Homo sapiens: one gene and its partner. The protein of the gene in region 2 interacts with the protein of the main gene of each other region in a pairwise test. Each region holds a gene or a part of one and is shown on either strand. Other genes may lie near its edges.

The links. The genes of interacting proteins can lie anywhere in the genome.
Region 1: the proteins of TMEM108 (region 2) and ANXA7 interact in a two-hybrid assay, tested with the Homo sapiens proteins (one large-scale study listed by BioGRID and IntAct).

Annotation. Positions count from the first base shown.
Region 1 is NC_000010.11:73,400,559-73,404,058, forward strand, and holds part of ANXA7 (annexin A7), read right to left. Parts: intron 300-3,500; 5' UTR 299-299; coding exon 245-298; intron 1-244. UniProt on the Homo sapiens protein: Calcium/phospholipid-binding protein which promotes membrane fusion and is involved in exocytosis.
Region 2 is NC_000003.12:133,391,391-133,394,832, reverse strand, and holds part of TMEM108 (transmembrane protein 108 isoform 1 precursor), read right to left. Parts: intron 1-3,442. UniProt on the Homo sapiens protein: Transmembrane protein required for proper cognitive functions. Involved in the development of dentate gyrus (DG) neuron circuitry, is necessary for AMPA receptors surface expression and proper excitatory postsynaptic currents of DG granule neurons.

The DNA.
Region 1 (3,500 bases), on a different chromosome or scaffold from region 2:
TAGCAACGCTGAGTGTGCCTCCCTCCATGGCTACACAGGGCTGGTGCTAAGCACCTGCCAGCTTTCAATAGACAAAGCAAGACCTCTCTAGTCCCCCACACAATTGCCTTTCCTCACTTCTACGTAGTACCTCTGAGCATCTGAATTTATGACCCCTGCTCAAGCATATCTGTAAGATCTGACATGGGCCAGTCCCAAACAACACCTGTTTTAAGGATGTGAGGTATTAAGTGGCAATACTTACAGGATATCCAGGGAAAGGTGGGTAGCCTGTTGGGGGATAGCCTGGGTATGACATTCTGTAACAACAATAAAAAATGTCCTCTGTAAGTTTTTTGTTGTTTTGTTTTGTTTTGTTTTGTTTTTTGAGACGGAGTCTCACTCTGTCACCAGGTTGGAGTGCAGTGGCGTGATTTTGGCTCACTGCAACCTCTGCCTCCGGGTTCAAGCGATTCTCCTGCCTCAGCCTCCCAAGTAGCTGGGACTACAGGTGCACGCCACCATGCCCAGCTAATTTTTATATTTTTTGTAGAGATGGAGTTTCACCATGTTGGCCAGGATTGTCTCAATCTCTTAACCTGGTGATCCACCTGCCTCAGCCTCCCAAAGTGCTGGGATTACAGGTGTGAGCCACCGCGCCCAGCCTGTAATTTCTTATAATGGTTAAGGCCTTTGAAAACATACAGATATACACACACATACACAACACACACACACACACACACACAAGGTTTTATGCAAAATATTTCTCTTTTCAAAAGAGTCTGGCATAAAATTAAAATGTGGATATTAGGGGTATAAGCAAAGCTTATTAAATGCTTATTTCATCATTCACACCAATGGAGTCAGTACAGCCTAGAAAGGTTCCAACTTTGTCATGCCATACAATTTTTGTCACATCTCAATTCTACCACTACTATACCAATACTGAACTATTCTTCTTTTCTCTTTTTTTTTTGGAGACGGAGTCTCACCCTGTTGCCCAGGCTGGAGTGTAGTGGCACAATCTCAGCTCATTGCAACCTCCGCCTCCCGGGTCCAAGTGATTCTCCTGCCTCAGCCTCCCGAGTAGCTGGGATTACAGGCGTCTGCCACCATGCTCGGCTAATTTTTTGTTATTTTTAGTAGAGATGGGGTTTCACCATGTTGGCCAGGCCGGTCTTGAACGCCTAACCTCAGGTGAACCACCCACCTTGGCCTCCCAAAGTGCTGGGATTACAGGCGTAAGCCACCTCACCCGGCCAAGGCTTCATCTTGGAAGCAGAGGGCAGTCCTCACCAGATGCCAGCACCTTGCTCTTGGACTTCCCAGCCTCCAGAACCACACCTGGCTGATCTATTTTTCTTTAAGCCAATTTTTAATTCCATTTATGTTAAAAGTATGCTTATCATCAGCATACTTTTAAATATCAGCATACTTTTAAATGGAAAACTTCCAGTAGTTTTCTTACCACAAATAGAAGGTAATATTAAAATAAATACTTAGCTATTACAATAAAAAGTCCTTTCTAGGTGCCACAGAAATCCCCTCATATGGTGATATAACCACATTATGGGAAACAATGGTACAATGGTTAAGAGTTAACATTCTGGAGTCACATATACGTGGATTAAACCCTAGCTTTCTTTTTTATAAACTTTTTATTTTTGAGACAAGGTCTTGCTCTGTCACCCAGGCTGGAGTATAGTGGCACAATCACAGCTTGCTGCAGCCTTGACCTCCTGGGCTCAGGTGATCCTCCCACCTCAACACCCCCCCTCCCCACCCCGTAGCTGGGACCACAGGTGCGTACCACCATGCCTGGTGAATTTTTGTATTTTTTTTGTAGAGATGGGGTTTCACCGTATTGCCCAGGCTGGTCTTGAACTCCTGGGCTCAAGCGATCTGCCTGCTTCAGCCTCTCAAAGTGCTGGGATTACAGGCCTAGCCTCAAATTACTGTTTTAACGACATTTTGAAAATAATTCCTGTGTAGTTATGCTACCAATTTGACACACGTTAGGTCCATTTGTTTCATTTTGCTTTTGACTTTTAAGGTTTAAAAAGTTTTTGATTTAGTTTTGTAATTATGTAAAACATTCTCTGGATTCTAAAGTCAAATCTACAAAACAAGATATGTTCAGAAACCTGTTAACTTCTAACCCTGTCCCTTACTATCTCCTACATATGATTACTTTTACAGTTTATCTACCTATCTTTAAGTACATAAGCTGATATGTCTATATTTGTATCCCCATTCCCCCATTCCATTCTTACATAAAAACTCTGTTTCTTTTTTTTTTTTTGAGTCGGAGTCTGACTCTGTCGCCCAGGCTGGAGTACAGTGGCATAATCTCAACTCATTGCAACCTCTGCCCCTTGGGTTCAAGTGATTCTCCTGCCTCAGCCTCCCAAGTAGCTGGGATTACAGGTGCCTGCCACCGTGCCTGGCTAATTTTTGTATTTTTAGTAGAGATGGGGTTTCACCATCTTGGCCAGGCTGGTCTTGAACTACTGACCTGGTGATCCACCCACCTTGGCCTCCCAAAGTGCTGGGATTATAGGCGTGAGCCACTGCTCCCGGCACATACTCTGTTTCTTTACTGGCTTTTTTCTTTTATTATGGCCAACACCCACACTCTTCATTCCTTTTTAAAAACAACAACATAGGCCAGGCACAGCGGCTCATGCCTGTAAATCCCAGCACTTTGGAAGGCTGAGGCAGTAGAATCTCTTGCAGCCAGAAGTTTGAGATCAGCCTGGGCAACAAAGAAAGACCTCATCTCTACAAAAAGTAAAATAATTAGCCAGGCATGGTGGTGTGCACCTGTAGTGCCAGTTATTCAGAAGCCTGGGCAGGAGGATCACTTGAGCCCAAGACTTCAAGGCTGCAGTGAGCTAGGATCGCACCACTGTACTCCAGCCTGGGCAACAGAGTGAGACCGTGTCTCTTAAAAAAAAACAAAACAACAACAACAAAAAACCACATAGTACTTCAGTGTGTGGATGTATCATGGCTTATTCAATGGCAGACATCTGAGTTATTTCTAGTCTTTTAACTATTACAGTCTTGCAATGAACAGCCATGTACAAGTACCTCTCTGTATATTTTGCCAATACTATCTTCGGGGAAGATTCCTAGAAATGGCATTGCTGAGAAGGGGTAAAGGTGAATGTGATACTGCCCAATTCCCCTCCAGAGGGGCTGTACCAATTTGCATTTTCACCAGCACTGCCAACAGAATTTTCCATCTAACATCCTGGATTTCCAGCTGTGTGAATATGGGCAGTTACTTAGCTTCTCAAAGGAAGTTACTTAGCCTTTTTAGGCCTTCATTTCTTCATCTATAAAATGGGACGTGAACGTACCTACTTAAGGATGTTGTTGTAAGAATTAAGTAAAAGAACAAAGGCAAAGCATTTAGCAGTGCCTGCAATAAAGTAAGTCCTCAGTAAGTGTTAACTGCTATGATCATAGAGAACTGTGATAGATAATACAAGAATATTAAAAAAATAATTAGC
Region 2 (3,442 bases):
AGGAGTACTTACTGCTGTATGAATCATAAGGTAAGGAAGAAATGCCATTGTTGATAAAATGTCTTTTCAGAAGACAAGAATTTCCTTCAGTGTCTGGAATTAGTTCAACACCTATCTAAGGGTGGATATGGGGCCAGCCATCTAAGGAAAATAGTGGAGCACTTCAAAGAGGAGACAAAAATCCCTTTCCTCCACCATGCTTTTGGGTTTAACTGTGGAGGCTGAGCTTGGCTTGTCATTTTATAGCTTTCACAAAGCAAGTCTTCACCAAAGGCAAAACCATGTGGGTATGTTTTGCTGCATTAAAGAGAGAGTTATTCAGGAAACAACCAAAGCAAAGGAGAAGAAAAAAGAAGGGAGGAGAGAAGGAGGGAGAAAAGAAGGAAGAAGAGAAAACAGGGAGAAGGAGGAGGAGGAGGTGGGAAAAAGAAAAAAGAATGGAAGTTTCCAAGCACTTGTTGGGCATCACAATTTTGTCTGTACAGCCCTGGATCTGTGTTTTGCTGCTTGCATCAACACAGCAGTGGGGGCAGGGCAACTGAGGAACTTGCTTAGGCAAACCATTTGGCAGTCTCCAAAGTTAGCAGCTAAAGGGCAGGTGGTGAGTACATGTCCTGAGGATGTGGAACATGGTGGAATATGAACTGGGACCTTATGATTGCTCTAGAGATGGTCAGCAGTGTGTGTGTGCTTGGCTGGCTTCATCCTGGCCCTAGGCTGCCTGCATTTACCCTCATATAGTGTGAGCCCAGAGAATTGGAACAAATTGTAATATTACTCTAAATAAAGCAGAACAAGAGGAACGGCTTGCTGGGAGGGAAACAGCAAAATCCAATCCACTCTGAAGCCAAGCTGAGCTTTGTGCTGCAGGTCCTATGGCGCCCTCCTGGTCTGAAGATCACGACTGGCTGGGGCAGCCCTTTCTACCAGAGCCTCTGGATTGTGTTGGACGGCAGCCCTCGTGCTCTGTGCCAAATGACTAACTGGGATGTTCTAAAAGCAAGGGCCTTTTCTATAGTGCGTTCACGAGTATTGTCCTTTGGCTTTGGTTTTCATTTACCAATTTGCAAAGAGAATATGAGAAATTTAAAGTTCAGGGGTTCACAGCCCATACCTAAAGTAGGACCAGCCCCTTTGTCAAGTTACATATTTTTTTCCACTTACTACAACAGATCTCAGGAACACCTTTTCCATGCAAAATGTGTACAGGCCACACTAAAGGTCAATGCTGCAGTGAAGCTGGCCCCTCGTTTGTCCTCTGCTTAAAAATTTTTCTTGGGCATTTACTGTGTGTTAGGCTCTGACTGGGTGATGGGTAAATTGTGGTGAACAACATTTATAGTTCATTCACATGATAAACATTTACTAAGAACCTACCATGTGCCAGGCACTGCTCCAGGTGCTGGGAATAGAGCAGTGAGCACAACAAACAATGCTCCTGCCTCAGGCAGCAGGACAGCCAGACCACAAACCAATCAACAGAGAGACAATGATGCAATGTCAAGTGGTGAGAAGAGCTCTGAAGACAAGTAAAGTAAGGAAGAGGAAACAGAATGAGGTTGGAGATTTAATTAATACAGAGTGGTAAGGGAGGGAGGGCCTCCCAGAGGAGGTGGCATTTGAACAGAGACCTGAAGGAATTGAGGGTTCAAGGTATCCAGGAGAAAAGCATTTCAGATAGGGTGCAAGAACGAAGCTCTAAGGTGGGGGCAAGCTTCCTGTGCAGGAGGAAGAGCAAAGAGGCCACTGAAGCTGGTGTGTGATCAATGGGAAGTGTGGTGGGGGCTCAGGTGGTGGGCAGGGGCCAACTTGTGAAGGGCATGAGAATGGGAGTCTGGATTTTATTCAAAATGTAGAGAAGAGCCACTTGAAAGTGGAAGCTGTGGCGGACATGGGATCCTGCCTTGAAAAGATCATCTGGCTCTTGTGCAGAGGGCAGACTGCAGAAGGCAAGATGGTAGTGGGGAGTCCTAATTTAGAGGCCATTGCAGCACTCATGGTGCGAGGGAGGAGACTGGCTTGGATCAGGGGCAGAGGTGCAGGCAATGAGAGGTGCTGGTCCTTAGGGAGAACCAATGAAATTTTCTGACAGACTAGAAGTGGGGTGTGCAGGAAGGAAAGGCAGCTGGCAGTACCATCTACGTAATCAGGAGCTGCATGTGAGGTTTGGGTTTTGGGGTTGGGAGGGCGAAATCAAGGGTTCAATCTTGGGTGTGTTGAGTTTGAGGTGCCTATTAGACATGTGCAGCAGGTAGCTGGGTAGGTGAGTCTGGGGCCAGGGGAGACATTAAGGTTACAGGTAGAAATCTGGACTCTCTAGTGCAGAGATGGTATTTAAGTCATGGGACTAAGTAGAAAGAGAATAGAAGTGACTGGGGGCAGTGGCTCACGCCTATAATCCCAGCACTTTGGGAGGCTGAGGTGGGCGGGTCACTTGAGGTGAGGAGGTCGAGACCAGCCTGGCCAACATAGCGAAACCCTGTCTCTACTAAAAACACAAAAATTAGCCGGGCGTGGTCGCGTGTGCTTGTAGTCCCAGCTACTTGGGAGGCTGAGGCAGGAGAATCACTTGAACCTGGGAGGCAGAGGCTGCAGTGAGCTGAGATCACACCACTGCACTCCAGTCTGGGCAACGGAGTTGAGACTTCATCTCAAAAAACAAAAACAAAACAACAACCAAAAAAAAAAAAAAGAAGAGAAGTGGTGGCAGGACCGAGATGGGGCGCTCCAGTGAATAGAGGTTGGGGAAAGGACAGGGAATCAGTAATGGGAGCTGGGGGAGAGCCTGAGAAGGCAGGGCCTCTGCTGCCATGTGACAGTGCCAGTGCTGCACAGATGGAGTAGGATGAGTGCTCGGAATTGGCTGCTGGGTTTAGCGATGTGGAAGCAACTGGTTACTCAAGTAGGGGAGAGGGGTACTAAACTAATATCAGACCAGTAGCATATCACAGCTCTAAAAAGGGTCACAATGAAAAAGCACAGGGAGCTAAGACCACGTGACAGGAGAGCTGAACCCAGCCTGGCAGGTTAAGGAAGGCCTCGCTGAGGAAGTGACATTTAGACTGGGCCCTGCAGCAGGATGGGTTGGAGTCACTGAGGTGAGCAAGTGAAGGGGGTGCTGGGGAGAGCCTGAAGATGTTGTAGGAGAGGCGACAGCCCATGCACACACCTGGAGTGGGTGTGATGTAACCTGGTGCTGTGAAGGAACAAAAAGAAATCCAGTGTGGCTGGAGCTTAGCAAAAGATGGGGAGAGGGGTGTGATGTGAGGCTGGAAAGTTGGCCTGGGTCTAGGTCTACCTTGCAGGTCCTATACAAGACTTTGAACTTTAACTGGAGAGAAATGAGAAGGTTTTAAGCATGTGAGCGATGTGACCACAGTTATGTTTACAAAAGCTCACCTTGGCTGCTCTGGGGAAGGGACCCACACGGGAAGGAGGGGTG